Homo sapiens: one gene and its partners. The protein of the gene in region 1 purifies or fractionates together with the protein of each later gene. This does not show direct contact. Each region holds a gene or a part of one and is shown on either strand. Other genes may lie near its edges. The genes, in order: MTCL2, AKAP9, HCN1, MARK3 and COP1.

Region 1 (6,367 bases):
CCAGACCTGGGCCAGGTTTCCAGATTGCCAGCTGAGGTCCCTCTTCTTGGGAATGGTTTGAGTGGCTTCCAAATAAAGAGTGACAAGGCAGCCAGCCCTGACTGCCTCAGCCCTTCAAAGATGTTTAGAGAAAACCAAAGGTCCCTTCCTCAGGGCATGGTGTCCAGAAAGCTGGTGAAGGGCAGGAAGGGAGGGGAGCAGGGCCGTTGGGATAGACAAGCAGCAGAGGAGGCTCCAAGGAGGGTGAGGAAGGAGTGGCAGGGCTGGCATTGGAGAGAAGCCCTGAGCAGGAGACTTGGGCCCAGCATCATGTCCTCAGTCCCCTCAGGACTTGGGTCTGTATATTTTGCAAACTGCAAATGCTGTTGGGTTGGGAGGGGTAAGGCATAGAGTTGGGGTGAACTGTAGATTCTGCCAGGACAAGCAGCTCTGAGAGTGGTGAGGTCCAGAGGAGAATGGAGAGGATGGTTGGATACTGAATGGACAAAGAGATGGATCAATGACCAGAGACAGGGAGAGAAGAACCTGTCAGGCAGCACCTGCTTTACAGTCAAGGCCATCTGGGCCTGGGCAGGGCAGGGGAGGAAAAAGGAGGGATCCAAGCCCCCCCCACCCACCACCACACACACGCCCATTGCAAAGTGCTGGGGCTGCTGCTGGCAGGCTGCTTACAGAGAAGACAGTGTGGCTTAAGGGTGGCACCGGGGGGTTGCTGGGGCAGGGTGAGCCCAGTGAGAAGGGCTGGCAGGGCTGGTGCCTCCTGATGCATTGGAGGAAGAGGCTTTTTTTTGTGTGTGTGAGAAAACACAAAATAAATAAACACAGAACCAGGACACCACCACATTTGAGAGCAAATATCAGAGTTGGGAAACCACAGACGCGGACAGGAAGGCTTCCCTGGTAGGAAGCAGGGGGACAAGAAGCCAGTTACTGAGGTTACGGGAAAATCCGCACGAGGCAGCAGTGCTGGGAAGAACATCCTGGGAGGACTGAGGGCTGAATACTATAGTGAGCTCCGGACCCAGAAGAGGAAAACCTGGCATGGACCAGGGCCACTCCATTTGCTGGCAGGAACCAGCCAAGGAGAAGAGGAGGCAGGAGGACAAGAGGCTTTGGAGGGAGATGATAAAGAAAGAATGGGTGAGTGGTGGGAAGCAGACTGAGCCCAGAGAAAGGAAGGGGCTAAACCAAGATTACAGAAAGTCAAAGCAGTGTCTCATTCACTACTGGGGATGCAAGACCTGTTAGGAGTCAGGAAACCTGGGTTCTGGTCTTGGCTCTGCCTCTGGTTTGCGATGTGACCTTGGGTGAGCCACTGCCTTCTCTGGGCCTGATTCCTCATCTCAAAAAATGAGGGGGCTGGACACAAAAGGACAAATACTATATGATTCTACTTAAAAGAGATACCTAGAATAGGCCAATCCACAGAGAAAAAAAAAAAGTAGAATAGAGGTTACCAGGGACTGGGGACAGGGGGAGTGGGGAGTTACTGTTTAGTGGGTACAGAGTTTCAGTTTAGGATGATGAAAAAGTTCTGGAGGTGGCAGTTACACATTGCAAATGTACTTCGAGACACTTAGAAATCTTTAAAATGGTAAATTTAATGTTATGCACATTTTGCCATCATTCTTTTAAAAAGGAAGGGGTTTAGACCAAATTATGTTATGGCCTCCTTGCTATTCATGAAGACTAGTGAAGGGGGTGAGGAGAGTATTGTCCCCCACCCCAGGGCCAGGGCACTGAAAGGCTGGGCTGGGGACACTGAGTGTGATCAGATCACTTTCCATTTGTGTAGAACCTTACACTTTTCCAAGGAGACTCGCAGGCACAGTGTTGCAGTTGGTCCTCACCACAGTTACATGGGGTGGGACATTATCCTCACTTTACAGATGGGGAAACTGAGGTATAGACTAGAAACATGATCTCGCCAAGGTCAATCACGTTGGTGGATTATTTATTTTTTTAAATAGTCACCTGGAAAACATCCTTGCATCTTAGGTTCACCCGTTGACTCACCAACTGGCTCAGTGGCCCTTGATGAAAGGATACATGCTATAAATTAGTAGAAGAGTTCGTCTCCTGGGGCCAACATGCTTGCTTCCCATAATTGGATGATAAAAATTATAAATCCTGATGTGTTTCTCTTTTTACCAATGGCTGTCAGGAAACTCAAGAGTAAAACTTAATTGCATGATTATGGGAATTACACCAGTTAGATTTACAGAATAATTTCTCTTGCTTTTTTACTTCTTATTTTTATTTTACTGAACCCCTATGATTAAGATTGTAAATAGCCTCTGATGCTTTTTGAAAATCCTGAGTAATTAAATCAGTTTGGTTGAGGACTCGATCCCTTAAGTCCCTGCTCAGTGCTCTTTTTAAGATACAGCATCATGTTTATTGGTTAAAAGAAAGATGAGGCTGGATGCCGTGGCTCACGCCTATAATCCCAGTACTTTGGGAGGCCGAGGTGGGTGGATCACCTGAGGTCAGGAGTTCAAGACCAGCCTGGCCAACATGGTGAAACCCCGTCTCTACTAAAAATAAAAAAATTAGTCGGGTGTGGTGGCACACACCTGTAATCCCAGTTACTCGGGAGGTTGAGGCAGGAGAACTGCTTGAACCTGGGAGGTGGAGGCTGCGGTGAGCTGAAATGGCGCCACTGTACTCCAGCCTGAATGACAGAGCAAGACTCTGTCTCCAAAAAAAAAAGAAAAAGGAAGATGACCTGGCACGGTGGCTGATGCCTGCCTGTAACCCCAGCACTTTGGGAGGCTGAGGAGGGCAGATCACTTGAGCCCAGGAGTTTGAAACCAGCCTGGGCAACATAGGGAGACCCCCTGTCTCTAAAAATAATAATAATAAATAATAAATAAATAAATAAATAAAATAAAAAATAAATCTAAAAAAACTTAAAAAAAGAAAGATAGCCTAATAATCAGGGCCACGAACACCAATGGTGTGGCCAATAGTGCCTAAGATCCCCCGGGGAGGGCTGGTTTTATTTTTTATTTTTTTTGAGACAAGTCTCATTCCGTTGCCCAGGCTAGAGCGCAATGGCACAATCTCGGCTCACTGCAACCGCTGCTCCCCACCAGGTTCAAGTGATTCTCCTGCCTCAGCCTCCCAAGTAGCTGGGATTACAGGCATGTGCCACCACACCTGGCTAATTTTTGCATTTTTAGTAGAGACAGGGTTTCACCATATTGGCCAGGCTCGAACTCCTGAGCTCAAGTGATCCACCCGCCTCAGCCTCCCAAAGTGCTGGGATTACAGGTGTGACCACTGCACCCACCCCTCAACCCCAGGAGAGTTTGTTAAACATGCAAATTCAAGGTGGGGCCCAGGAATCTACATTCTGAACATGCCCTCAGAGAATTCTGCTGAATGGGGACCTCAGATCACCCTCTGGAATACACAAGGCTCAGTGATCTAGAATGGACTTGTTTTATGCCTGGGTTGGCCAGCAGCATATTCTGGGTATTCTGGACCCACCAAAAGCCCCCAGCAGGGCAGCGGATTTGCACAGCAAACAGGACAGAGTTGGACCCAAGTTCTCATCTAAACTCAGTGACTTCTCATGCTCTGGGATGAGACCTGTACCTCAGTTTCCTCACAGCAAAATGGGCGCACTAACCCATGTCCTGCCAAGGCTGCCTCCCAGAGTTGTCCCTGAGAGGTCTGAAGGAGATGTGGGGTGGGAAACGATTTCTTTTTTGAGATTGGGTCTCACTCTGTCATCCAGGCTGGAGTGCAGTGGCGCAATCTCTGCTCCTGCAACCTCCGCCTCCTGGGCTCAAGCGATTCTCCCACCTCAGCCTCCCGAGTAGCTGGGATTACAGGCACGCACCACCATGCTCAGCTAATTTTTTGTACTTTTAGTACAGACAGGGATTCACCACGTTGGCCAGGCTGGCGTTGAACTCCTGACCTCAACTGATCCGCTCGCCTCAGCCTCCCAAAGAGCTGGGATTTCAGGCGTGAGCCACCATGCCCGGCCAGGGGAAACGTTTTCTATATAGTAAAGTGCTTTAGGCGGGATGTGCAGGGGATGATGATAACCATTGTTATTACTATTATTATGGAAGAAGTAGTGGGAGCTTGGGGGGTCTGGTGAGGCTAGAAGCAGGGGACATTCTAGATAGGAGGGGAGAGGGAGAAAGAGCCTGGACGCTGGGTGGGCCAGAGGAGAAGAGGCTGGGTGATGAAACCATAAAAGTGCATGCGGGTGGACATGATGGAACCATGTCAGCAAGGGTGTAAGAGGGTCAAGTCTTTGGGCCCTTGGCCTTGTCACATCGGAAGCCAACCGGTAGAAGAGTGCACCTGGGGACACCTAGAGGTGGGACCCATCTTGAGTTCATAGAAAGCAAGACCTCTTAGAGGTCAGCCTTTGGTGGGAAATAAACTGGGGGAAAGGGCTGGCACAGGGTCAGAGGATTGGATTCTGATGTCTCGTGTGTGCAGGCCTAAGAGCCACTGATGCACCAAAATGACTTGATTTGCATTCCAATGAAGTCATCATTCCAAAAGGGGCTGATTTGGCTCTGGAAAGAGGTGAGACATAAGAAACATGAGGTTTCCCAGTTTAGGGCCATCATGCCAACTGGTCCCCCATTTCCGCCAACCAACTGATGCCAACCCCATGGACCCAAGCCAAGTGGTCTATGGGGGATTGAGCCCCGAGGGTTCCTTGGGACTTTGGTTGAAGAGAGAGTGGAGATGGGGAAAACAGAAAGAAGGATAAAGGAGGAGAAGAAGGGAATAGCAGTAAAAGGCAGAGAGGCAGGAGGAAGGGGGAGAACGGGTTCGAGAAGGGCAGCATTCCTTCTTGGGACCCCAATTCTCCAGGGAATCCCCACTGTGGGTCAGGCAGTTTTCTGCTTTGGGAATGTTACCAAGACTTAAAAGGCATTTGAAGAAACCAACAAACTTAGAAATCACATTCCAAAAGAGTAGAGAATTTTTACAAACCAATCCCCCCACCCCAAAAAAGAAAACAACCAGTTACCAAGTAAAATGCTAAAAACCGAACCAAACCAATATTTACATGTAACATTTTCAACCCCATCCAGCCCCACGTCCAGAGGCTTCTGCAGGAACAGTGATGAGTGGCCTTGCACAGTGGCATGCAGGAAGTAGAAACTGGGGCTTTACTGAAAACCAAGGTCTGGCTGAGACAACAAAGATGGCAAGGACAATCCTGGACGGTACGATGGTAAGGCTGAGTGGTCCGTAGGTCTTGGGGCTCAGGTCCCACGGGGATTTCTCCCCGAGGCTGAGTACGCAGCCTCCCTGGCTGTCGCTCTGGGAGGTGGCAGAAGGCCTCTGGTGGCTTGTGGCCTGATGTGAATCCCCTCACCTGGAGATAACCTTGGAGGGCCCCCCTGACCTCATGGGTGAGAGCAGCAGCATCCAAGAGCGGAACTGGCCCACAGCTCCACTGGCTGCCTGCTCTGCCCACACCAGTCACTGGGGCATGGAGGAGGCGGCTGGCGGGACTGGCATGACCCTGGTGTTCAGCCTGCAGGGAAGGGAGATGCAGGACTTGGGGTAACTGGTCCAGGTGATCCCGAATGGGTGGGTCTGGGAACTGGCAGGTGGGAGGTGGGAGTGCAGGGGCGCCTCCAGAGTCCTGGGGGCAGATCAGCAAAGCTACTGGCTTTTGGTCTTCCTGATGGGCAATTCTGCAGACAAGCTGATCCATCCTGGTGTTTCCACTCTGGGTCCCCAGTCAGTTACAGGAAGGCTGATGTCTATGTGTGTGTGGGGAGCATGTGTGCAACCAAAAGGGGTTCACCGGCACCAAGGCGAGGCCATGGGAGGCGCTGCCCCACATGCTGCAATGAGCCACATCGAAATCCAACCAATGGCTCAGGCAGCTCACAGGGGACGTGAGGAAGGGCGGGCAGCAGAGCTGGGGCAGGGAGAAGAGCCGTGAAAGGCCATAAGGCTAAGGAGAGAGGCTGGTGAAAAGGCTGGCAGGCTGGTGAGAACCGAGGCAGGCTGGGAGACACTCAGGTTTATGTGCAAAGCTGCGATAAACAACATTCTCAAAGTTCAGTCCTGTTTTCCTGTGAGTTCTCATTTGGGAAACTTGGAGGGATCTCCACACTCTTAATAGAGCTTTAGTAATCCACGTTCGACTCATGAAGAAAGGTGTCAGAGGGAGGGAGGGAAATGAGACAGGCAATGGAGAACGTCTGGGGAGTGGTGATGGCCGTCCAGCCCTCCACCTTGTCAGTGAGTATTTATAGACTGACCGCTGGGGCTGGCCAAGTACCAGGCATTGAGTAATAAGTAGTGTTCTGAGGCCACATGGCCAGCCGTGTTGGGGTGCAGGGCTCCAGCTCTGTTGAGGGGCCCT
Region 2 (6,571 bases), on another chromosome or scaffold:
TGCATTCTGCACATGTATCCCAGAAAAGTATAATTTTTTAAAAAAGATTAAAAAGGAATATATAATAGAGTTCATTTCCTATCTGATTACTGTAAAACAATAAAATGAGTCAAAAATTAAAAAAAAAATAAAACACAAGTGTGGGGTGTGACATGGCATTTTGCACACCCAGCATGCTCCCACATGATGCCAACTCTACTGCTCTCGAGACCACACTGAATAGCAAGGCTTCATGTCACAAAGTTAAGAAATTGATCATAAACTGTTGTATAAAAAAAGGAAATTTCGTATGAGATAGGGCAGCAATTTGAACTTAAATAACTATTTATGTGTTGATTTTAAAATAATACCTTGTCATCAAAGTAGTTACAGAAATGTAGGGATAGTTGTAAATACTATGTTAAATCACTTTGAAGAAGATATAATCATTGCAGTTTTCAGCAACCTGGTAATTATTTATGTTCAGTCATTAAATGTATTTCAGTGTCTACTGAGTTTAATAACCAGTGTTACAGAAAAAATTTTAAGTGTAAGTCTTAGACATTAGTTATTAGAAGCAGGATAAGTGATAGTTTAGAGTGGAAGATTCAGAGATAAACTCCTCAGGTTCAAAAGCTGGCTTCTCCACATACTCGCCATGTGGCCTGAAAGCAAATTACTCCTCTCTGTGACGTCCATCCTCATCTCTAAAATGGGGATACTCAGAACAGATCTTATAAAGTTGTAACAGGGTTTTAAGAAATAATACATATAAAGCACTTTGTGCAGTGCTTAGCGGTAAACTGTTACAAGTGATGGCTGTTACTACTAGTATTGATACTGTTTAGGAAATACTAAGCTAACTGGTTTTTAAGGATTTGCCAGTGTTCAGATATGGTTCTCAGTATGTGATGTGTTAGTGTGTAATCAGCGATTCCCTCTTTCAGTTTCTAAGGCAGTAAATGATTCATAAGCTGCTTTCTGAGCCACTTGTCACTAAGTGTTGCTGAGGATAGGCTCTGTTGCCTTAGATAACAGAGATGCTCCTGCATCTTAGTTTGCTTTTTGATCAGCAGTTTTGATCATGAGGTAAATACACATTTGGAAATCATTCATTCACTTTGTATTAAGTAGCAACAAACCAGTGAGCTAAATGAATGTTACTGTCCTCAGTCAAAACCAATTTTCAAATATAAAAATAATTCTTAATATTCATCATTCGTTTCAGTCTCTAACCATCAAAAAGCAGTTGCTTTACCATTATTCATAATCCATCCTCAAAATGATTAAATAAATTTCTGTTGTCCTACCTATAGGAGCTCTCTAATTTTCTCCTGAATTGTATAATTCACTTACTCTAAGGTTTTTGTAATTCAGACCTAAGGATCTCTTGGTCTTAGTTTCTATCTTGGCTTCCTTCTGCTTAACAAACCACATGGCAGCCAGGCCTTTTAGTAAGTTAATTAGATATTTTTGGACTAAATTGAGTTAGTCTTATATGGTGGCTAACAAAACAAACAGTTCTACAACTTTTCTAGGCCTTTTGATAGCAACTTAATGTAACATAAACTAAGATTTAATATGTGGACTCTTTCCCTTCCTCCTATGACTCTTTTCTGCTTCAGGAGAAGAGACTAAGGTAGGAAATGGCTCCTTTTATCCTTCCTCAGGAGGTTTCCTCTCTGCTTTGTGTAGGATAGTTTAAGGATGGCCAGTTTGAGCATGTCTAGGAACCACACAGGTAACACAGATTATACCTGGCTTAGAAAAACCACATTCCTTTATTCTTATGACTCATGTTTTAAGCATGCATACTTTGTAAAGCTAATATAGCACTCTTCATTTTATCTTGATAAACGTTTGTATAAACATTTTTTCTCTTTTGATAATTTTGTTATTAAAGATTACAAACTTAGAAGAGCAATTAGAACAGTTTAGAGAAGAACTGGAAAATAAGAATGAAGAAGTTCAACAATTACATATGCAATTAGAAATACAGAAAAAGGAATCTACTACCCGCCTACAAGAACTTGAACAGGAAAACAAATTATTTAAGGTAATTAGTTAAGAAAAACTTTTATCTGTAAATAAGTCATAGTTTCAGTCCTATATTGCTTTATTATTATTATTATTATTATTTCTTTCTTTTTTTTTTTTTTTTTGAGACTTAGTCTCACTCTGTTGCCCAGGCTGGAGTGCAATGGTGTGATCTCGGCTCATTGCAAGCTCCGCCTCCCTGGTTCAAGCAATTCTGCCTCAGCCTCCCGAGTAGCTGGGACTATAGGCACGTACCACCACGCCTGGCTAATTTTTGTATTTTTAGTAGAGATGGGGTTTCACCGTGTTAGCCAGGATGCTCTCGATCTCCTGACCTCGTGATCCGCCTGTCTTGGCCTCCCAAAGTGCTGGGATTACAGGCGTGAGCCACCACACCTGGCCCCTATATTGCTTTATTAAGCATTCGATAAATCCAGCTGTTAAATAATACTCAACAGAGGAACATTAACAGGCAGACACATTTGCATACAGCTTATTTTCAGCCCAACCTGAACATTTGAATTCATCATAAATGAAAATTTTGGGATCATTTATCAAAATATTTTAGAATTATTGATTTACAGTAACCATATGGTGTCTCTGATTTTATTCATTTGTACGTTATAGGCTCTGATTTCTTTTGTAATTATGTTCTGAAAATGATAGGTAATGATATATCCAACTGTGATAATTATTTTTGTTCCTAGGATGACATGGAGAAACTGGGACTTGCCATAAAGGAATCTGATGCCATGTCTACTCAAGACCAACATGTGCTATTTGGGAAATTTGCTCAAATAATACAGGAAAAAGAGGTAGAAATTGACCAATTAAATGAACAAGTTACGAAACTCCAGCAGCAACTTAAAATTACAACAGATAACAAGGTATACTCATTTAAAATTGATTATGAAATTAATATGAACCAGAGTTTTAAAGGGCAAAATGGTTATAATGTTGCTCCCCATTGAATTTAAAAAACAAACCAATTTTATTTTATTTTATTTTATTTTATTTATTTTTTTTGAGACAGAATCTCGCTCTGTCGCCCAGGCTGGAGTCCAATGGTGCAACCTCGGCTCACTGCAACCTCCACCTCCTAGGTTCAAGTGATTCTCCTGCCTCAGCCTCCCGAGTAGCTGGGATTACAGGCACCCACCATCACACCTGGCTAATTTTTTGTATTTTTAATAGAGATGGGGTTTCACCATGTTGACCAGGCTGGTCTCTATCTCCTGATGTCAGGTGATCCACCCACCTCAGCCTCCCAAAGTGCTGGTATTACTGGCATGAGCCACCACGCCTGGCCCAATTCTCTTTTATTAATTTTAATTTATTAAGACACATTGGTGGCCAGGCACAGAGGCTCACACCTGTAATCCTTATACTTTAGGAAGCCTAGGTGGGCGGATTGCTTGGGCCCAGGAGTTCAAGACCAGCCTGGGCAACATGGTGAAACTTTGTCTCTACAAAAAATATAAAAATTAACTGGACATGGTGGCATACCACCTGTAGTCCCAGCTGCAGTGAGCCTCATCATGCCACTGCACTCCAGCTTGGGTGACAGAGTGAGACCCTGTCTCAAAAAGAAAAAAAAAAAAAAGCAAAGACACATTGGTTTAATAATTTATATGTATTTTTCTCCCCTCCTAATATTGTCATAGGATTCTAATGTTTTTCAGAAAGGCTCTGTGACTTAGATTTTATCATGTTATTCTAACCAAATCTATTATAAATTATAATATTTAATATGAGTTAAGTAAGGTAATTACCTTTGGTGCCATCGGTTGTAGACTTTATTTCCGTACTTCATCCTTTTCCATTAAGAAGTATTGATATTGACTATTTTCCTAATAGGGAATCAGCAACTAAAAGCTTATATTACTTTATACTTAACAGAACTTTCTGAGCCTTGTTTGATATGATGGGGGAGATATTGGTCTATAATGAAATTAAGTAGTATGTCTGAGAAGTAGTGTATTATTTTTGTGTGTGATCATCTCTTTGAGGTACTGCCCTAAAATAAAGTAAAATTTTCAAAATGTAAATACATATATATTATGTATGTTACCTTTTTCATTAATTATTAGGTTATTGAAGAAAAAAATGAACTGATAAGGGATCTTGAAACCCAAATAGAATGTTTGATGAGTGATCAAGAATGTGTGAAGAGAAATAGAGAAGAAGAAATAGAGCAGCTCAATGAAGTGATTGAAAAACTTCAACAGGAATTGGCAAATATTGGACAGAAGACATCAATGAATGCTCATTCCCTCTCAGAAGAAGCAGACAGTTTAAAACATCAATTGGATGTGGTTATAGCTGAAAAGCTGGCCTTGGAACAGCAAGTAGAAACCGCTAATGAAGAAATGACCTTCATGAAAAATGTACTTAAAGAAACCAATTTTAAAATGAATCAGCTAACACAGGAATTATTCAGCTTAAAGAGAGAACGTGAAAGTGTGGAAAAGATTCAAAGCATACCAGAGAATAGTGTTAACGTGGCTATAGATCATCTGAGCAAAGACAAACCTGAACTAGAAGTAGTCCTTACAGAGGATGCTCTTAAATCCCTAGAAAATCAGACATACTTCAAATCTTTTGAAGAAAATGGCAAAGGTTCCATAATTAATTTGGAAACAAGGTTGCTACAACTTGAGAGCACTGTTAGTGCAAAGGACTTAGAACTTACCCAGTGTTATAAACAAATAAAAGACATGCAAGAACAAGGCCAGTTTGAAACAGAAATGCTTCAAAAGAAGATTGTAAACCTACAGAAAATAGTTGAAGAAAAAGTGGCTGCTGCTCTTGTCAGTCAAATCCAACTTGAGGCAGTTCAGGAATATGCAAAATTCTGTCAAGATAATCAAACAATTTCATCAGAACCTGAAAGAACAAATATTCAGAATTTAAATCAACTAAGAGAAGATGAGTTGGGGTCAGATATATCAGCATTAACCTTGAGAATATCAGAATTAGAAAGCCAGGTTGTTGAAATGCATACTAGTTTGATTTTAGAAAAAGAACAAGTAGAAATTGCAGAAAAAAATGTTTTAGAAAAAGAAAAGAAGCTGCTAGAACTACAGAAGCTATTGGAGGGCAATGAGAAAAAACAGAGAGAGAAAGAAAAGAAAAGAAGCCCTCAAGATGTTGAAGTTCTCAAGGTTAGTTTTGTATTTTATTAGTTTCATTTAAATACCCCAAGAAACTAAGCTGATTGCTAATTTACTAAATATGGTGTTCTGTTTACATCTAACAATTTATACAAGAAGGTTTTTATAAAAATATACCACTTATAAAAAATAAACTCTTGTTAAAAGAAAAACTAGGACAGGCGCGGTGGCCCACGCCTGTAATCCCAGCACTTTGGGAGGCCGAGGCGGGTGGATCTTGAGGTCAGGAGATCGAGACCATCCTGTCTAACACGGTGAAACCCCGTCTCTACTAAAAATACAAAAAATTATCCGGGCGTGGTGGTGGGTGCCTGTAGTCCCAGCTACTCGGGAGGCTGAGGCAGGAGAATGCTGTGAACCCGGGAGGCAGAGCTTGCAGTGAGCCAAGATCGCGCCACTGCACACTCCAACCTGGGTGACAGAGCGAGACTCCATCTCAAAAAAAAAAAAGAAGAAGAAAAACTAGACAAACTAAATTTACGAGAGTTTATTTGAACAAAAAAGGATTCACGTATTGGGTAGCATTCAGAACCAGAGGAGTTTCACAAATCTCTTTTGTGCAACAGTGGCCAGTGAATATTTATAGACAGAACTACCAAATAAAATACAGAAATAGCTTGATTAGTTACAGTTAGGTGTTTGCCTTATTTGGACCCAGTCTGCTCAGTTGACTGCTTGTCATTAGCTAAGAGTTGGCTGTTTATTATACTCCTAAGATACGTTTTCAGTTTGCTTACGTACTCCTAAGTTAGATTGTAGTTCCTTACATAGGAACTCAAGATACAGAGACAGCCTCAGGCCAAATTTAACTTAACACTGTGTAGTCATATTATTATCACTAAAATAATGGATACAGACTGTATTTTATGGTCTTTAAATATGATATTTATTTCATTAACATCATCATTAAATGGAGCAGTCAGAAGAAACTAAGAAACATTAATTTTAGCAAATGTTCTCTAGGATTTATGGGGATTTTTTTCTTAATTTGCTTCTAATATGCATGTTATGTTATCATTCCTTTTAAGTAATAATAAGTATGAAAATATGTTAGGATTGACAAAGAATGCAGACTTTACAGAAAGAAATCTATTATTTAATAGCATCTACTGAATTAATTAATGTGTGGGTGACATATTTTACAATTTTTTTTTTTTCTTGAGACAGAGTCTCGCTCTGTCGCCCAGGCTGGAGTTCAGTGGTGTGATCTCAGCTCACTGCAGCCTCCACCTCCTGGGTTTCCAGCAATTCTCCTGCCTCGGCCTCCCAGGCGGCTGGGATTACAGACACGCACCACCACACCCGGCTAATTTATATATATATATATATATATATATTTTTTTTTTTTTAGTAGAGACGAGGTTTCTCCATGTTAGCCAAGC
Region 3 (6,571 bases), on another chromosome or scaffold:
ACAGTTATAGAACTGTATTTTATTTATTTGTATGTGCTACAATTTGGTGCATGCAGCAACCACAGTTCCTTAAATTTTTGGCCATTGTTTTCAGGACTCAAAATAGCTCAGCATTCCATTCTATAAGGCCCATGTTTCTTTCCCATGGTACAGTATGAGTACTTTTTAAAGTAGGTGAACATAAAATAAAAGTTTGCTAGTTGTAGTGCATATGAACAAAATAACCACATGGGTTTTATGGCACATGTTCTAAAAAGATAAAGATATAATGGAGAGATATCTCATTCAAACAGGTTAACATTATAAACAGTGCAAGTGAGGGCCATAGAAGCAAAGTAACATAGTAAAATTAACAAATATAAAAACCTAAGCTGAAAGAGGAGGTATGGAGATTTTTTAAATAGTCCTGAAAGATAATAGAGATTGCTCATAATTTGAAGTAGACATAATTCAGGATTTGAAATAAATCATCTAAAATTTTAAACATGTCATATTGTTTAAATCATTCTCTGTCCTATAGGAATGACGGTAATAACTTGACTATGTACTTTGTAGTGTCCTGAAAATAGTATGCTCAGTTAAGTTTATAAATTGCAAAATAACCATCTCTTTAAAGTGGAACAGCATTCATCAGGGAATTGTTCACTTATGAAGAGGTCATCCAGACCTGGAGACAAGCTACTTTTTTGGTGAATAGAATATATTGCCATTGCTACTATTTATCCTCCTTGTTTTCAGGAATGCTTCACTACTTATTCTCATTATGATAAACTCTATCTCAGGCTTTTAGGTATCATTTAAAACCCACTTGTGTGGGGAGGTTCTATCACTCTCCAAATAACTTTGCAGGGCCCAAGGCTATAAATATGAATATATTTATACAAACCTATTTTGTTATAATAGGGCCTTGGGCCTACTATACAAACCTATTTTGTTTAAGGCTATAAATATGAATGTATTTATATAAACCTGTTTTGTTATAATAGAGCCCAAGGCCCTATTATAACAAAATAGGTATGTTATAAAACTATTATAACAAAATAGGTATGTCATAGAACTATTATAACAAAATAGGTTTGTATAAATATATTACAGGACAATTATTTACCATTATTACAGGAAAATTATTTCTCATCTGTATATCCAATAATTACACAAAATGGTTGTGTTTTGAAGTTGGAGAACAACCACATTCTAAAAAGGCACAGAGCAAAAAAGAAAATAAGCTCATATTTTACTATACGAAAAAGGTAAACAAAGAAGTGGTTGAAAAATCCATGTTCTATTTAAAGTCCTCTCATTCCAGAATTATAGAATATAATTGATTTTATGTGATTATCAAGTATAAGCTCTTGGAAATTTTATGATGTAAAAATAGAGGCAAAGCTGTACTCATTAATAAAATAAAACATTTGATTAGCATATATTGATAAAATAAAATATTCATGATTGTAGTTTATTTTTTGTTGAATTTATTAATAATCTTTATATATATTTATATATGTATGGCTTTGAGCAAAGACAAAAGAAATACTCTAACTCATCCCTGATCATACAGTTGTTGTAAGAATCAGCTATTCTATTATCTTTCCAGCAGCAGAAAGACCAATGAATAATACATTTCTTTCTGTACAGATTAAAACTCCATACATACGGGCTTCACTATGTACAGAGAAAAGAGGTCACTTTTCAACTAGCAATGGACCTTTATATTACAGGAATGTGAGTCATTTTTTTTTCTTAATCTAAGTATATATACATTCATACATATATGTATATAATTTACCCTGTACCTTTTTATTAGTTTAATATATAAACCTTAGTTTTTTTGTCCATTCTATTACAAAGTGAATAAAAATTGTATGGTTGCACTGAAAGACCATGCATTTCAATTTTGCTTATGTTTCCCAATAGTGCTCAAAATAAAAAACCAAAAATTTATATATATAAAAATATTTCACTACCAAATCCATTAATCCTATCAAATGTAAACCTTTAATAATTTAAAGGACCAATACGTAATCTTAATAAATTGAAGTTAATTCTCATATTTTAATAAAATAAAGGAGTTTTGTACTGATATGTAAATGGTCTTGCAGCTTTCCCATAGGTTCTAGGTAGACTGAACAATCCCTTTCTTACAACAGTATTCCTGACATGCCATCATATGTCACCAGCATATTGATGATTACATTACATCGACTAGCAGTTAATTACTTCCACACCAGTTGGGATTTGTTTGAAATTAAACATAACAACTCATTTTGGTATTATAGGTATTATATCCACAAAAGGCATAACAGGCAGCAAGGATCCACTTTAGAGTTTCTGCTTTTGTTTTTGTTTTCTGTCCTCAAGTCTATCTGCAGGCCCTGTCCCACATAATGTGTGATCTCTGTATGTTCTTAAATGTATTGCCAGTGCCAGAGATACTGAAGACCTCCACTTTAAGTCATGCTCTTAACTTGGGTTATTTACCGCAGCCAGTTGTTAGGAATCTTTCAATTGTGTTCCAGTCATACTCCACATGTGTGGGATGCATTAGGCACAAATGATTACTAAGGGAGTTCTTTGAGAAGAAGCAGGTGCTCACAGATCATGTAAAGAGTTAAGAAAACAGACAGACAATGCTCATAGACGTTCAACTTTACCCCTGCTTTCTGTCACCATGTCTGTACTATTTTCAACACATTAAAAATGACAAACCTCCTATCTAAGGGCTACGTTAGTCACCACATGCCTTAAAGTTTACTAACCATTTAGTTACAATATACATAGAGCAAAATGTGTGTTCCCAAACAGACGTGATGCTGTATTGAATTTATTTCTTTAAATTAATACCATAGTAAATTACCAGCTACAGTGAAGACACAGACAACACTTAACTCCAAATCAAGCTGTGGTTTACAAATAATTATTTAAATAATAATAGCAATAATATTAAATAAAAGTGAAAACCTCACTTCTAGACTTAAGTCAGAGATCCAAGTCAGCCTTATAGGAATTATAAGATAGGCAATTAATGAATTGTTATGCTTTTCTAGAAACGAGAAATACTGTAAGCCTTTCTCTACAATGACTGATTTGAACCTATTTTTTTTTCCCCAGAAGCATGCAGGGACTATTTTCAGATGCTTGATTATGGCAAGAAGAAAGAAAAGTAACGATTTTTGGTGTAATACAAGCAATTTGTAGATTCGAGCATACAATTTTGCATAAAACATTGCAGGTTAAAATAATATTGTAGGTTTCAAGCCATTGCATTACAATTGAATAATTCTCACAATCAGGTTTTGTAAAATTTAAAACTCTAAGTTTTGAAGTGAAGCAATAAAACTAAATTCTTAAACAATGACTTTTACCTTCATACAACACAGAATAGCTATTTTTATTTGGGTTGAAAAAGTTATTTACAACTAACATTGATCGAGTCTTGGTAAAAGTCCGATAACACATGAAGACAAATATTAATTTTCCCTCAGCTTTCTGAAAGATCAATGAACATGTTTGAGGTTAGTGATATTCTTAACAAACAGTGGCAATGCTAGTCTCCTACGGTGGCCAAGCAAGTAGTGCATTCTTTAACCTAATTTGAAATTGAAAGCACCGAAATACAATTTAGATCTATAAAATGGGATTTGTTATTTAATTCTCCACCATTAATGATTAACAATTTAGATGCAGAGACACAGCTAATGAAAGAAAGTTTTGATTGGTGCTATTTACTAGTTCATTTGAGTTGCCTTTTTAAAATCAGTTTTGTTTCCATTGAATCCAAGAACTCTTCATAAAATAGAGAAATATACATATCAAAGGACTTAAGTAAAAGTAGGTTAGAAATAAATAATCTTACAACGACATTTTAAATCCTTTAATGATTTAAAGAAAGGAAGACATATAACACTGAATGCTAAACAGGTCTTTTGACCCTCTCTTGGGAATTTAGATATATATTTTATAGTATATGTATATATATTTTTACATTTCACGTGTAGGCCACAGCTGTCTAAAATATCTCTTCATAGTAGGCTAGAGGGATCTATCAGGAGATAGAATAAAATAAGATCTGAGTATAGTCTCAGTTTATGAGAGTATTTCTTTCTGCTTTGACAATCAGCAGGGATCATAAATTTGAAGCAAATCGTGGCTTTTCTGCGTCTGGGTCTGTGTTTAAGACTGAGGAAGATTCTCTTGGAAGAGCAGCTGCTGGTGGAGGGGGTGCTGGAGGGACTCCTCGGTTCGGGGGGATGGCTCCCGACGACATCTGTCGGAAGAGGGTGACGCGCTGCGGGACAGTGCTCCTGCCCCCTGCCTGAAGGCCCGTTCCGGGGACCGCCGTCACGGGTTGAGGGATGGAGGCCAGGGACTCGCCCACAGTGGGATGAGGTCTGGAAATCAGAGTGGACACCTCATGGGGCAGCGAGGGCTGCGAGGCGGAGAGTGGCCTGACTTCCCGGGTCAGGTTGGTGTTGTGAAGCGCCTGCGTGCTCTTGTGCACTTCATTTTTCGGCGTGGAGCTGCCAGGTGTCTGTGGCTGCGGGGACGGCTGCTGTGGCTGAGTCTGCGGCGGCTGGGACTGCTGTACCTGCTGCTGCGGCTGCTGTTGCATGAGTGACAGCTGGGAGGCGGTGGGGGAGGCATAGTGGAAAGTTCGAGCGGCCAGAGGGCTCTGTACAGGAGGGCTGCAGACCGCGGTGGTGTAGGAGCAGGGTGACAGGATGGCTGATGGCTGGGGGGTCTGTGTGCTGGGACTGGGGGAGTGCAGGTTGCTGTGAGACAGGCTGGTCGCTGTGTACACCGGTGGAGATTGTGTCCTCATGCGGGAGGTCGGGGTCGTAGTAGACGATGTGGAATTCAGGGTTGTCATTTGAGGATAATTGATGGGAGCGATTGCCTGCACCATCTCCCTGTCATGTTTCACAATCTGCTTGAGGATTTCGTTCTCCTGATTGTTGAAAACACCAGTGTTCAGATCCTTCTGGAACTTTTGCAGAAGAATTGAATTTTTCTTTCCTGTCAGCAAAAGAAAGATAGGCACTTAGAAAGCCTACCAATGACTGATGACAACGCCAAGTGAGAGTGGCTCCTGCAAACAGAAGTATAGCTGTGCTTCACAGGAGAGGCTTAAAAAGCCAGTCACTCACCTTTACACACCAAATACCAATGTGGCTCCTACCTTTCACACTTCCTGTATTTCTCTGGGAACTCTTACCTTCTACTCAAGTTGAACGGCCTGTAATATGGCAAAGAGCCACTTTACAGAAGAAATGGAGATATTTAACATGAGGGCCACCTTGAAGAATGGGGGAAGAAAGGGCTTTTGGAATAGGATGGGCTTGGAATCAACATTTGATTTTAAAGTTACTTTTTCAAGAAAGGACCATGGAGACATAAGCGAGAACATTTGAACACGTACTATGTGATAAGCACTCTACAAAAGACCTTAGGTAGATGATTTTATGTAACCCGCGACCCTGTCAGATAGGTGTGTTCATAATCTCATTTTACCTGAAAGGAGATCAGGACATGAGAAGACTAAGAACAGTGCCCAGGAAAACAAAAAAAAAACATGGTTGGCAGGTAACAGGGCTGAGAAAGACCATATACACAAAAAAGTGATTGCACATCCTTGCTATGGAAAATGAACCAACTGCCCCTGTCTCATCTGTGTGCTTGCTAGAAACTCAGCCTCCTGGGCCTGACCCCACTTGCTGAATCAGATGTTGCATTTTACTAAGATCCCCAGGTGATTCCCAAATGCAAATCTGAGGAGGACTGTATCAGGTTTTGCTTTTGACCCAGTGTCTTACACCAGTCATTCTCAGTCCTAGTTGGATATTTTTCTTATCTCTGGAGCTTTAAAAAATACTAACATCCACTTGTTCCCTACCAATTAAATCTAAATAATCATACATGGGCTCTGAATTTCAGTAGTTTAAAAGCAAATTTCCCCAGGAAATTCTTTTTTTAAAATTTATTATTTATTTATTTTATTTTATTTATTTATTTTTTTGAGACGGAGTCTCGCTCTGATGCCCAGGCTGGAGTTGCAGTGGCACCATCCCAGCTCACTGCAAGCTCTGCCTCCCGGGTTCATGCCATTCTCCTGCCTTAGCCTCCTGAGTAGCTGGGACTACAGGTGCCCGCCACCGTGCCCGGTTAATTTTTTGTATTTTTAGTAGAGATGGGGTTTCACCATGTTAGCCAGGATGGTCTCCATCTCATGACCTTGTGATCCACCCGCCTCGGCCTCCCAAAGTGCTGGGATTACAGGCGTGAGCCACCACGCCCAGCTTCCCCAGGGAATTCTTAAATGCAGCCAAGACTGAGACTGACTTTATGATCTTTCCTCTTCTGAATGGTTGTTGTGAGGACCAAGGGCATAGTGCATTGCAGGCTCTCAGCTCCCTCTAAGACCTCAATAAATTTTACCTTTTCCTGCCATCATCTTCTGAGTGGTTTGCAATACAGCTTTTCCTGCCATCATCTTCTGAGTGGTTTGCAATACTAGACAGTCTCTGGCATAATAATTATTAGAATGAATAGTGGATTGGTGAAAGAAGGGGAAAGT
Region 4 (6,571 bases), on another chromosome or scaffold:
TCGGCTCACCACAACCTCTGCCTCCCAGGTTCAAGTGATTCTCCTGCCTCAGTCTCCCTGGGATTACAGGCATGTGCCACCATGCCCGGCTAATTTTGTATTTTTAGTAGAGACTGGGTTTCTCCATGTTGGCTAGGATGGTCTCAAATTCCCGACCTCAGGTGATCCACCTGCCTCGGCCTCCCAAAGTGCTGGGATTACAGGCGTGAGCCACCATGCCTGGCCAATCAATGCTAGTCTTTTTTTTTTTTTTTTTTTGAGATGGAGTCTCGCTCTGTCATCACCCAGGCTGGAGTGCAGCGGCGCGATCTTGGCTAGATGCAACCTCCGCCTCCCAGGTTCAAGCGATTCTCCTGGCTCAGCCTCCAGAGTAGCTGGGACTACAGGCGAGCGCCACCACCCCTGGCTAATTTTTGTATTTTTAGTAGAGATGGGGTTTTGCCATGTTGGCCAGGCCTGTCTCAAACTCCTGACCCCAGGTGATCCGCCCCTCTTGGCCTCCCAAAGTGCTGAGATTACAGGCATGAGCCATCCGGCCCAGCCCAATACTAGTCTTAAAATGACTGAAAAAAGAGTACAAAGAAGAAAAATAAACTCAAAGTTTTTTTTTTTTTTTTTTTGAGACACAGTCTCACTTTGTCACCCAGACTAGAGTGCAGTGGTACGATCTCGGCTCACTGCAACCTCTGCCTTCCGGGTTCAAGCAATTCTCCTGTCTCAGCCTCCTGGGTAGCTGGGACTCCAGGCGCCCACCACCATGCCTGGCTAATTTTTGTATTTTTAGTAGAGATGGGGTTTCACCATATTGGTCAGGCTGGTCTCAAACTCCTGACTTCAGGAGATCCACCCGCCTTGGCCTCCCAAAGTGCTGGGATTACAAGCATGAACCACCACGGCTGGCCAGGAAGGAATGGTTTATTCTGGGAGTCACCAGACTCTTCTCAGATTGAACTCACTGTCTCTCTTGCTGGCTGGTCATGAATGGGTGTCCCAAACCTGGCAAAGCTCTTTGGCTGATTCTGTTTTGCCCAGTTTAAAATGAGGTGGCTTAATAAAGGGGCTAAGAAGTGAGTAAGAGGGTAAATAGAAACCTTCTGATGCGTCTGACTTCTAGTTAATGCTAATGGATGTCAGAGATCCTCCCTAATCTAGGCGGAGGTTGAAGTTAGCCAAGATTGCACCACTGCACTCCAGCCTTGGCGACAGTGAGACTCCGTCTCAAAAAAAAAAAAAAAATTAAAAAAAAAAAAAAAAGGAATACTCCCTAATCTATTCCATGTCCTAATAATAAGTAGATCAGACTTTAATGTGACTCACCGAAGTTTCAGATGATCGAATACAAGATTACATTTAGCTTAGTTTAAATAATGGAGATGGAGTGAAATGAAGTAATAGGCTATAGGCCATAGGGAATGCAGAAAAACAGAGGAGGGTACTGATCATTTCAGACTCGGGAAAGACTCCTACTGCTGTCCTGTAAGCTACAGATGACAAATAAGAGGGTCCGTCCTAGGCAAACCTGCAAGATACCACAGACAGACTCATCCACAGCTAGGCTTAATTTCAAAACATTTCTCCAAGGATGTCCTGAAACTGCAGGGGCTCTTGGGTTTCCTGGGCTCCTTCTCGGAAAGGTGCCTTTCACTATTGTTTACGGTTCAAAGTGGTATCCTTTCTTTTTCCTCTTGAAGCAGCCAGTATTTCTGGGCTTTTGTAACAGGTAACAAGGTTACGGAAATGAAGTTAATCTCAAAGGACCCTTGAGAGTTTACTGAGGCCCCAGATGCTAGCCTACTAGACACATGGAACATTTTAAAAAATTTCCAGGACCATCAGCCAAGAATCATGCAGCATTTAATAAAAATAACTTAATAATAGTAACATTATTTTTTGATAATAAACCAGAGATTTTATCTCCAAAACTATACCATTTAAGGACATTACCTTGCTCTCAATATAAATTACTAAGACTGAGAGAGAAACTTTCAAGATTTGGACTCTTAAGAAATTTACTGCTCCTTAACAACAATAAAGTGAGAAAAGAGAAGCTGTCTCTTTCCTCTGGGGCTGGAGATGATTATGAAAGACATGCATGGTCTTTCCTGCTGATTGTTACAGAGTGCCAGCCCCCCACCCCACACCAGAACTCGAGGTCTGCCTGCTCAACAACAACGAACATGCCATGCAGACAGATACGTGAGCAAAAGGAACAATAATTAAAGAACAGTAACAAAAACCTCCTAAATGCTAGTTAACTTTTAGTGTTATGAAGACTCTGAGCTCTACAATTTCTACTTTAAAGGTTTTAAAGTATAAAGTTAGATATATATAAAACCAGAAAACCATGAGCTGAAGGCAGACTGAAAAGCATCCAGGTAGCAGTGGCTTCACACAACAAAAAAGACATCTTTCCTTTTGCTCTATGTGTTCACTCCAAAACAACCAGCACCTAGCACTTACCTCCTTGTGAGTTTTGAAGTTAATTTACTAAAGAGATTAGTGGAGCCTCGGCTTCGAGTCTGGGACAATGGTGTGGCTTCATGGGACAGGCTGGGAGAGGCAGGAGGGCCATTATATGTTGCGGTTCGCCGTTCCCGGGGCTGGCCGTGGAAAGTGCTACGACTGGCAGTGCCTCTTGGGAAGCGGATTCGATCTGGGGTGGCTGCACTACTGATACTGTGTGTTGAAGCAACTGGAGTTCTCTGATCAGGAATAGTGCTATGAGATCAGAAAGTAAGAAGCTCTCAGAACATGATATACAAAAATTTACAGTCACAATATACCTTTTATACACAGTGGAGAAAATCGGGTATAAAAAATCCAGATCCAAGGGGTATTTTATAGGACTTAGGAGCAAAAGGTAAGTTAAGTGGGAAAGGGTACCAAAAGAACAATACATAATGAGACAAAGCCTCATGGAGTTTAAGGGACCAGTATTATATATATTTTCAAGGACAAGATTAATGCAGGGAAATTCTAGGACAGAGAACAGCTAACTCAAACTTTTCCCCTTTGCTTCCCTCTCAAATTGCTTACATAGAGAACTGTGCCAATACGAAAGAAATAAAGGATATGCTGGCGTAACTGAAGAACAGGCAACTAAAAAGTTTTGGAAGTAAACAAATGATATATGTATAAAATTCCACATGCTGAAAGCAACTTGGGAGGAGCAGGAACTTCTTATACATTTTGTAGTACGCGAAGGCACGAAGACACACAATACACAACCGAGGACATCATGACAAAAGATGTGCTTAACTAAAATCACATGGAGGAAGGACGCCTTGTGGACAACTGTAACAAAATCTCAGACTATAAAATCCACAGCACAAAATTAAGAAGCAGTGGGTACACATTAGTTTCACAAAGAATGTGCATTTTTCTTACATAGCCTTGAAGTTATCTCCTTCACTGTCTATTGGAGGTAACATCATCTTGGGGTGCCCAGAGGCTGACATGGACATCGACTTCTGATGTCTCAGCCGACAGGTAGATGTACAAACTGAGGCAGGGCTAGCTGCGTAAGCGAACATTTCTGTCAGGCTGGGAGGGGTTTGGGTTCAGGCAGAGGCAGAAACACAGTATGAAGGAGCAGTGACCACAGAGCAACCTGTGTGTAATGCACACACCTTCCTCCCAAGCCATCTCATTTCTGGTAAAGAATAAAAATCTCCTAAGCTTGTTTTGGAGATTCTGGAGCAACTGCTAACCTATAGTTGCTTTTTTTTTTTTCCAAACAGTAATCATAAAAATCTATTACCTTAAAATAAAATAGCAGATTACATGTTTGAATATCTGTTTCTATGAGAGGGACAATGTCCTCTGAGGGTATGCACAAAATAAAACCTATTCTAAGAGATGCCTCAATTCAAATCTAAGTGGTAAAATGAATATATAATATGAGCATGCTATGCTCTCAACCTGTTCCCAAAACACACTGACATATTTTATTTTTTCTTTATTTATTTTTTTTGTAGAGACAGGGTCTCGCTATATTATCCAGGCTGGTCTTAAATTTGTGGCTTCAAGTGATCCTCCCGCCTTGGCCTTCCAAAGTGTTGGGATTATAAGTGTGAGCCACCACACCCGGCCCGCACTGATGTATTTTAAATGAATTAATAAGATTACAGGTATAGGAACTAGCTGTTATATAACAGTATCCTATGTTGTTTGGTGTTTTTTTGAGACAGGGTTTTGCTGTCACCTAGCTGCAGTGCAGTGGTACGATCATGGCTCAATGCAGCCTCAACTTCCTGGGCTCAGGTGGTTCTCCCACCTCAGCCTCCTAAGTGGCTGGGAATACAGGCGCACTCCACCATGCCTGGCTAATTTTGTATTTTTAGTAGAGAGAGTTTTGTCATGTTGCCCAGGCTGGTCTTGAACTCCTGGGCTCAAACGATACGCCTGCCTTGGCCTCCCAAAGTGTTGGGATTACAGGCATGAGCCACCATGCCCAGCCTTCCAATGTTGTTTTAACAATATAGTCTAGAACCTTCCTAATCAAAGGACATTTACTCCAAGATAAAAAACAGTCAGCAGAGCCCCCTTCTCCAAGATGGGCAAATTCATCAGAGCAAATTAACTGTTAACAGACATGGTAAGATAGAGTGGCTGGAAGTCTGCAGTTTCATCTAACACACACAGTTACCGGACAAAACTACCCCCAGGAGTCTCACTGGGACACATTATTTGGAATTCCAGCTCAGTAATCATGTCCTTGGAATTCAAGGGCAGTTTCTTTCCTTTAAGGATAAGTAGGAATACAGCTCTTCCAGTGTCTTTCTGCAGAAATCCTTTGGAAGGATTAAAACCTGGAAACTGGCAAGTTCTTCCTTTCCCTCACTCCCCATACACAGACTAACGACATCTTATTGGTGTCAACTTCCTAGTAGCTCTTCAGGTGGCCCATCTGCTCCACTTCTACCAGGGCCTCAGTATAGAGCCTCGCTCCTTGTCTTCACTGGGTCCCCTGCCTTTGCCCCAACACCTCCAATCTATTCACCTTACAGCTGAGAACTTCTTAACATATAAACCAGATCTTGTCACTCATCTGCTCATACTTCTACAGAACACCAAGTCTTTGGTAAAAAGTTCAGTCTCCTCGACTTGGAGTGCAAGTACACATCCCCAGGCCCCTGAAGTCTGGCCCCTGCCATCTCTCTAGGCTTTGCCTTCTATCATTCCCTCCTGGAACTCAACTTTCTAGCCTTCCTGATGATGTGTGGTCCATTGGTCAGGCACCAGGTCAGAAAATGTTTGCAGGAGTTATTCTCTTGGTATGGAGGGCTGGGATCTTTCTATTCACTCTTCAAAAATGAACCAGATGTCGTCATCTCTATGAAGTGTTATCTGATCCATTTTCCCTCTGAGAGTTAAATCACTTCTGTTTTTAGCTCATGCATGCCACATTGTATCCTAGTGACCCTTCTCTGCTGGAGGTCCCTGAAAACACAGCCCAAAATCTTGTCAATGTGCCCCCCACCAGTGTAAGCAGAAAGCCTGGCAGGGCAGGTATTCAACAAACGTTCTCCTAACAGAGCAGATTAATCAATTAGCAACTGGAATTCTGATAGCCCCAACATAAAGCAGATACGTCTTTAAAATCAAGAACTGCTTGTCCCTGAATTAAAACATTTTTATTTAAATTTTTATTTTTGGAGACAGGGTCTTGCTGTATTCACCCAGGCTAGAGTGCAGTGGCACTATCACAGCTTGCTGCAGCCTCAACCTCCTGGGGTCAAGCGATCCTCCTATCTCAGCCACAGGAGTGTGCCACTATGCCTGGCTAATTTTTAAATTTTTTGTAGAGATGGTGTCTCACTATGATGGCTAGGCTGGTCTTGAACTCCTGGGTTCAACTGATCCTTCTGCCTCAGCCTCCCAAAGTGCTGGGATTATAGGCCTTGTGAGCCACTGTGCCTGGTTCTGTCCCTGCATTTTTGTTTGAGAATTCTGCTCTCTGACTTGGGAGAATTTATACAGTCTGAGAAGGACTGGAAACAAATGTCTTATAAAGGCAAAAATTTATCCAGTTTCGTATTTCTGCCACTCAGTATCCATTCTTTTCCTGCAGCAACAATAATGAGATTTTGCTGTGGTGGAAGTAACTCTAGGCCCCACACAGATCAAGGAGACCACCTGAGGGCTTCTGCTTGAGCACAGCTGTGTGTGGGAAGAAGTTATGTCTGATGGTGCCGAGCCCAATCATGGAACTACGGCCAAGGAGGCAGAAGCAGATGGACCGTAACTCTAGCCCTGGACTTTTTTTAGTTATATGAACTAACAGCCCTTTTATATTTAAGCCTGTTTAGACTGGGTTTTCTGTCACCTGCAACAGAGACAGTTCTAACTGACTAAGGTTTTTAAAGAAATGCTCGGTTGTTTCTTGTACATGTGTACAGACACACGTACACATGAATGCACACAAATGTTATTTATTTTTTTTTTTTTGAGACGGAGTCTCACTCTGTCGCCCAGGCTGGAGTGCAGTGTGATCTCTGCTCACTGCAAGCTCTGCCTCCTGGGTTCACGCCATTCTCCTGCCTCAGTCTCCCAAGTAGCTGGGACTACA
Region 5 (6,571 bases), on another chromosome or scaffold:
TTAAGTTAGGAATTGTTCAGCTTCATTATAATTTGTGGGAACATAAGATGTCCTTAAATAGCACATAACTGTAATGTGTTTTTTTTAACATCTTGGTTTTTTCAGCAGCTATGTTAGTATCCAGCAGATAACTGGCACTCTGGACATTTGATGGCTGAAAATATTCACGGTTCATTCTTTTCTTCGAATGAGCCCCAATAATCATTGCCTCCTGAATTCCTCTATCAATATTTTGTCCTATCATTTGACATTTGCATATATTGTCTGTAATCTCTTCTACTAATTATAAAACCGGTGAGGCTACCTTATTCTTTTTTTTATCCCTTTGTGTTTAAATTGTTGCACAGGCTGAATTATGTGTTATTATCACTATATATAATGTAATGTATATTATTATTCTGTGTTATTATTCTTATTTTGCCTGTGTATATGTTCATTGAAGACCAGCTCATTTGTTCTAATTGAAATTGCAAGTTTGCATGATGATTGAGAGCATAGACTCTGGAACCAGTTGCTTAAATTTGAATTATCTGGTGTATCCGTGGACAAATTACTTAACATTAGTATACCTCAGTTTCTTTATACAGTGGAGATTTGAAGCTTGTATAATTTATGTAAGGTGGTTAAAACAATGCTTGACACATCTCAAGTGTTATGTATGTTATGGAAGTTTCAAGTAGTATTGATTGGAAGAAAGTTGAGTAACATCAATTCTTAATTTACTTTACTTGTGTTTGTATTTTTTTAAAGATCTGCTCATCACTTTTCGTTAAAATGGCCAGTTTCTAAACGTATATTTTGTTTCCTTAAAGTTTTAGTTACCTGCTCTTGAGGCACACTATCATGGTAATGAATGAGAATGAGACCTTTGACAACTGCTCTTACTTTATATTTTAATTTGATATAAGTTGGGCTCTAGCATCCAGGGACACTAATCCACCATGTTTGTTAATACTTATAATTGCAAAAAGATATGAGAGACATTGGAAACACTGACAAAATTCACTGCTTGGGCTTATTGACGGCTTTCATTGCTTTGTGCCGCATTGTACTGGCAGTATGCATTAATCAGCTGTCCTGTGCAGTTTCTTGCCTTGCTGCTTAATCACTTGACTAATGACATTTTTGACAAAGAATACAGCTAGTTTCCTACAGCTGAATTACGTATTTCAGCTGTTGATATAAATCACTCTTTTAACAGTTGAAATGTTTCAAAATGTGAAAGAAAAATGCAATTTATGTCCCCAGAAACACGATTTTTCAAAAGTATACTTGTATGTTGAAATTAAAAACAAATTCTGTGAAATTGAATTTGTCATGCAGTAAATTTTTATAAATCTCTTGTTTTAATTATTACTGCTGACAGTGGATGGCAGAAATGAACGTTGTATAGCAGTAGTAAGACTTAAAGTTTGTTTTTGAATTTAATTGCATAAGCAACATTTCAGTTAATTAGTTTACCTTTTATTTAGTCTCAGCCTAACTAGTCACTGTTTAACTTTTGAAGTACTTTTGCTTGGGTTATCAGATTTCATAATAAAAGTAGTTGAAATATCATACTGTTAATATAAGAGGTCATCTGTTTTGTATTAGTTCTAGAAAGCTTTCTGCACCTGAAAATTACAGTGTTCATTTCAGTTAGTTCATGATCTGTTTTTAGAATCTCATTATGTTCATGTTTGAGAATATATATGATTAAATATGTCAGAGATAGGGAGCAAATGTTTCAGTATCTAGAAGTCCTTAAATCCTGAGTCTTAGTGATGTGGAAGTTCTTCCACTAAAAAAGGTGGTTTGAGGGGGGGGACCTGTTTGTCTTTCTTTCCCTTTTAATCAAAATTTTCTAGAAATAATATTATTCTTTATACTTTTTGATTAATATTTCTATTAAAATCTATTTTTACAGTATAAAAGGATCTTGTTACCCCCAAAATATTTTTAAAAACATACTCTACAGGTTCTTGATACCTTAATATATTAAAAACAAAACATAACCAAAATGTAAGAAAATAATAGCAATGAAATCAAAACAAAAAGTTAACTTTTTAATATGAGAGTTAAGAGTTAGCTAATGTCACTAAATAATAACATGTAGAAAAAAGAGAGAGAGCTGTCTTGAATAACAGGATACCAGCAGAAGAAATAATAGACATATTTAGGTCATCATCTTAATTCTTTTTTTTTTTTTTTTTTTTTTTTTGAGACGGAGTCTCGCTCTGTTGCCCAGGCCGGACTGCGGACTGCAATGGCGCAATCTCGGCTCACTGCAAGCTCCGCTTCCTGGGTTCACGCCATTCTCCTGCCTCAGCCTCCCGAGTAGCTGGGACTACAGGCGCCCGCCACCGCGCCTGGCTAATTTTTTGTATTTTCAGTAGAGACGGGGTTTCACCTTGTTAGCCAGGATGGTCTCGATCTCCTGACCTCATGATCCACCCGCCTCGGCCTCCCAAAGTGCTGGGATTACAGGCGTGAGCCACCGCGCCCGGCCCTTAATTCTTTTGACAGCATTTTTACTTATGTGTCAGTTTTCTCCCTGTAATGTATTTAAGCTATTATTTTGATAGGTTAGTGTTTAAACGTATTATATATGTTAAAACTAATAGTTTAGTAATGGCATACTTTTACTGGCACAACATTGGAATGGTGTTGATTAGCTATGTATATGAGTAGGCGGAGAAAAAGTATTTAGTGATAACTAGTTCACTTGAAGTCTCAGCTATACCAAAACCTCCTAAATTAAAAACAGGATTTCAGTTCTGATAATAACTCTGTCCTTTACCAGATAAAGTAGTATTTCTCCTTCAGTGACATGAGACTATGGGTATAAATTGAGTTGGGATAGATGAATAGTTGTCATCATTATAGTTATGGTGCATTAAAATCCACATGGCAGCAAGTAGTAGCTGAGGCAGCAGTTCAATTGAGGTTGTACAAATAAATCTACTGCATTGCTATAGTATCATACTTTACTGGAGGGAACATTTGCTGAATTGTGCCCTAGTCAGTGACACTTAACTGAATAAATTTTTTTTTTAAATTGGCTGGGCACCATGTCTGACGCCTGAAATCTGTAATCCCAGCACTTTGGGAGGCTGAGGTGGGAGGATTGCTTGAGCCCTGGAGTTCAAGACCAGCCCAGGCGACATAGTGAGACCCCATCTCTGTAAAAAAAAAAAAAAAAAAGAATTTTAATTCTTTAAAAAATTATATAAAATTAAGGAAGCATTTAAAGCTGTAAAGAAAAGTGGGCGTATCAATGTGTGTCTTTAAGGGAAATAGTCCTTGTTGTTGTTGTAGTTGTTTTTTAAGACAGGGTCTTGCTGTGTCACCCAGGCTGGAGTGCAGTGGCACAGTCATGGCTTACTGCAGCTTCAAATTCCTGGGTTCAAGCAGTCCTCCCACCTCAGCCTCCCAAGTCTCTGGAGACAAGAACCCATCACTATGCCTCACTAATTGTTTCATTTTTTTGTAGCGATCGGGTCTCACTATGTTGCCAGGCTGGTCTCAAACTCCTGGACTCAAGGGATCCTCCCACCTCGGTCTCTCAGAGTGCTGGGATTGCAGGCATGAGCCACCGAACCCAGCCTGAAATATTCTTAATGTGTCTTTTTCTTACTTACCATCATCAGTTCAGCAAGCTTCTTAATAAATCATTAATCATTAACTGTTCTGTGAATGGATATTAAGAAAATGGATGTTTGTATTTTTGTATGTAGGTGTTTGTATTTTGTGCATTAAATGAATGCTTAATAGATACAGAGCACTAGCTAGGCATTTTGAGAGAAGAAACACACATACATAGATATTGAAGATACATTCATACACATAGATTTTAAACCTTTAAACCTTTAGCCTTTACACTTTGAGTTTTACATTAAGAGCTTTGATCTGTAATAAAGCATAGTAATTATTAGCACCAGCTCTGAAACCAGACTACCTTGTGTTTGAATCCCACCTCAGCCACTTACAGATTGACTAACTTTGGGCAATTTACCTCACCTCTAATCTTCATTTTCTCATCTGTAAAATGTAGATAATAATAATACATATATCACAGGTTGTTATGAGGACTAAATGAGGTAATACATGCAAAATGTTTTAGTAAGTGAATGATTAATGAATATTAGGTATTATTGTGTAATTAATTGTAGATCAGTGAGAATTCTTATCGCTAAACCTCTAGAAAAGATGCTTAAATCATATTGAGGAATAATGTATGTGATGATTCATTTCAACTTTTACTACCTTTGGGCTAATTAGATTTCCAGCTGGTTATGTAACAACTGTGTTTAGGCTGCAAGTTCTGTAAAAGCGAGTATGATCTTGTACTTGCTTTCAAATAGCTTGTTTTGGAGCTTATATAAAAATGATCAGCAAGAGAGGAGTGAATAACGCTGAAGGAAAGGAGATTATTTATTTATTTATTTATTTAACCTCTTTTGTGATATGAGGAATGTGTATTGGGGTTTTATAATTCAGAGAGATATTTGGGGAGGGGGATTAGGTATGGATTTGGGGAAAAGTAATGATAATTCAGTGGTTCTGTTATATGTATTCCATCCCCTTGTCATCACCCAATTGCTTCAGTAATTCAAATTATATACTAATTTATTTATTAAAAATAAAATTTAATATTGTGAAATTCTACTACCTCCACAAAATGGCAGGGAAATAAGTAGAATGTATGGAAAAATTAGTTGATAATTGTCTTTTGGCATACTTTTAGTATATCAAATGATTCACGCCATTAAATCTTTCTCAGTAAGCTGTAATATGGTTATTAGAACTGAATGAAAAGCATGTCAGGTGTCTTGGAACAAAAGTACACCTGTGCACAATTGTGTAGATATACAAATGTATATATTAAAAGTTTTATATTACACAAATCTCAACAACTTTTAATTTGATATGTGTTGATTACTTAATCTGGATATGAGGTCTAGTACAATTTGAAGGTATTTAAAGTAGATCTTTTATCCTTGTAGACCGAATTACTTTAGAAATAGAAAATAGCAAATTCTGAAATGTTGTCATTACATACTTTTTCCCCTTAGTATTGAATTTGACCGGGATTGTGACTATTTTGCGATTGCTGGAGTTACAAAGAAGATTAAAGTCTATGAATATGACACTGTCATCCAGGATGCAGTGGATATTCATTACCCTGAGAATGAAATGACCTGCAATTCGAAAATCAGGTATTTACATTATTTTCTTGACATGATGCAGTATAGATGTAACAATTTGCATATGTAATTATCATGAGATTATTTTACCTTTGCATGACACTTTTTACTCATGGTGAACACTATTATTGTACTATGTATACAGAGTATATATTATTACTTATATCATCTTTCTTACAGATATTGGTTGCTTTTTTCTTGTGAGGTTAGCCTTTTTTTTTTTTCTGGTTGCCAAATTAAAGTTCTTCTTTCACTTAATCAAATAAAGGTCTTTGTTGGACATGGTTGTTGGAGACTCTATGGAGTACTGAATGAGGATTAATGTAGCTTATGAATAGTATTTGAACATCAGGAATTTTTCCCCTAGCCTGCACATATCTCAACATATTAGAATTGTTTCTAGTTTTAAGAATTTTTTTTACAAGAATATTCTGCTTTTCACTGAAGGAATGGTGTTTATGTTTTCTGTATTAGAGATTATACTTTATAAGCAGTGCTTTTCAAACCTAAAATACTCTTAAACACTAACAGTATGTTAAGACTCTACTCCTGATCTGCTCCCCAAAAAATCTCAGAAGAATTCTAGAATCTGCTTTTTTTTTTTTTTTTTTCCTTCTAAACAAGCTTCCCAAGCTGTTCTCATGAGCACTGGCTTTAAAAGAGAATTATATGAGGAAATCATCTAATAATAACTTTGTATAGAACTTTGAACATTTTCAAAATAGCCATCCTTGAACCTTTTTTATCTTTAATGAATGGCATACATAGTATGTTTGTTACAGTCTTTGTATAATTTATTTGTTATAACTTTCTTTTTTCTAGTTCATTTATAAAAATACTATATCGATAATTGGTGAGCTTCCCCATTCATTTGTGGCACTCATCATTGAGAATCTGTTATAGTTTATGTCCTAAGTGAAGAGGATATAACATGAATTAGATACAAGTTTATTGAATTCTTATATATCAGGCATTATCCTAAGTGCTTGGTCTTTAGCAGACCTATGAAATAGTTACCATTATTGCTCCATTTTATACAAAGAAAGCTGAGCACAGGAAGGTAAATAACCTGCCTAAGATTATACACCTGCTATATAGAGGAGCCAGGATTCAGACTGAAGTAGTTTGGTTCTAGAGTCTGTGCCCTTAAACATTTCCTGCTCCTTATTTATAAAATGGAGGTCACAATAGTAATACTTATTTAATAGGATTGTACTTTTAAAAAATCCCCATAATGCACTCAGAACAACACTTGGCCCATGGCAAGTACTCATAATATATTACATAATGAAAACGTGGATTAGAAAGTTTAAATGTGCTGTCTACCTGTTCTGTATTTGTATGTGTAAAAATGTGCAATACTTCCTGATATATTGGAATAAATG

Evidence for each region.
Region 2: the proteins of MTCL2 (region 1) and AKAP9 purify together in Homo sapiens (affinity purification with mass spectrometry; one large-scale study listed by BioGRID and IntAct). This does not show direct contact.
Region 3: the proteins of MTCL2 (region 1) and HCN1 purify together in Homo sapiens (co-immunoprecipitation; one large-scale study listed by IntAct). This does not show direct contact.
Region 4: the proteins of MTCL2 (region 1) and MARK3 purify together in Homo sapiens (affinity purification with mass spectrometry; 2 studies listed by BioGRID and IntAct, with this or other methods). This does not show direct contact.
Region 5: the proteins of MTCL2 (region 1) and COP1 purify together in Homo sapiens (affinity purification with mass spectrometry; one large-scale study listed by BioGRID and IntAct). This does not show direct contact.

Annotation. Positions count from the first base shown.
Region 1 is NC_000020.11:36,778,835-36,785,201, forward strand, and holds part of MTCL2 (microtubule cross-linking factor 2), read right to left. Parts: 3' UTR 1-6,367. UniProt on the Homo sapiens protein: Microtubule-associated factor that enables integration of the centrosomal and Golgi-associated microtubules on the Golgi membrane, supporting directional migration. Preferentially acts on the perinuclear microtubules accumulated around the Golgi.
Region 2 is NC_000007.14:92,074,973-92,081,543, forward strand, and holds part of AKAP9 (A-kinase anchor protein 9), read left to right. Parts: intron 1-1,882; coding exon 1,883-2,035; intron 2,036-2,723; coding exon 2,724-2,903; intron 2,904-4,106; coding exon 4,107-5,180; intron 5,181-6,571. UniProt on the Homo sapiens protein: Scaffolding protein that assembles several protein kinases and phosphatases on the centrosome and Golgi apparatus. Required to maintain the integrity of the Golgi apparatus. Required for microtubule nucleation at the cis-side of the Golgi apparatus.
Region 3 is NC_000005.10:45,257,798-45,264,368, forward strand, and holds part of HCN1 (potassium/sodium hyperpolarization-activated cyclic nucleotide-gated channel 1), read right to left. Parts: intron 5,014-6,571; coding exon 4,124-5,013; 3' UTR 1-4,123. UniProt on the Homo sapiens protein: Hyperpolarization-activated ion channel that are permeable to sodium and potassium ions. Displays lower selectivity for K(+) over Na(+) ions.
Region 4 is NC_000014.9:103,487,924-103,494,494, reverse strand, and holds part of MARK3 (MAP/microtubule affinity-regulating kinase 3), read right to left. Parts: intron 2,719-6,571; coding exon 2,461-2,718; intron 1-2,460. UniProt on the Homo sapiens protein: Serine/threonine-protein kinase. Involved in the specific phosphorylation of microtubule-associated proteins for MAP2 and MAP4. Phosphorylates the microtubule-associated protein MAPT/TAU. Phosphorylates CDC25C on 'Ser-216'.
Region 5 is NC_000001.11:176,044,808-176,051,378, reverse strand, and holds part of COP1 (E3 ubiquitin-protein ligase COP1), read left to right. Parts: intron 1-5,054; coding exon 5,055-5,198; intron 5,199-6,571. UniProt on the Homo sapiens protein: E3 ubiquitin-protein ligase that mediates ubiquitination and subsequent proteasomal degradation of target proteins.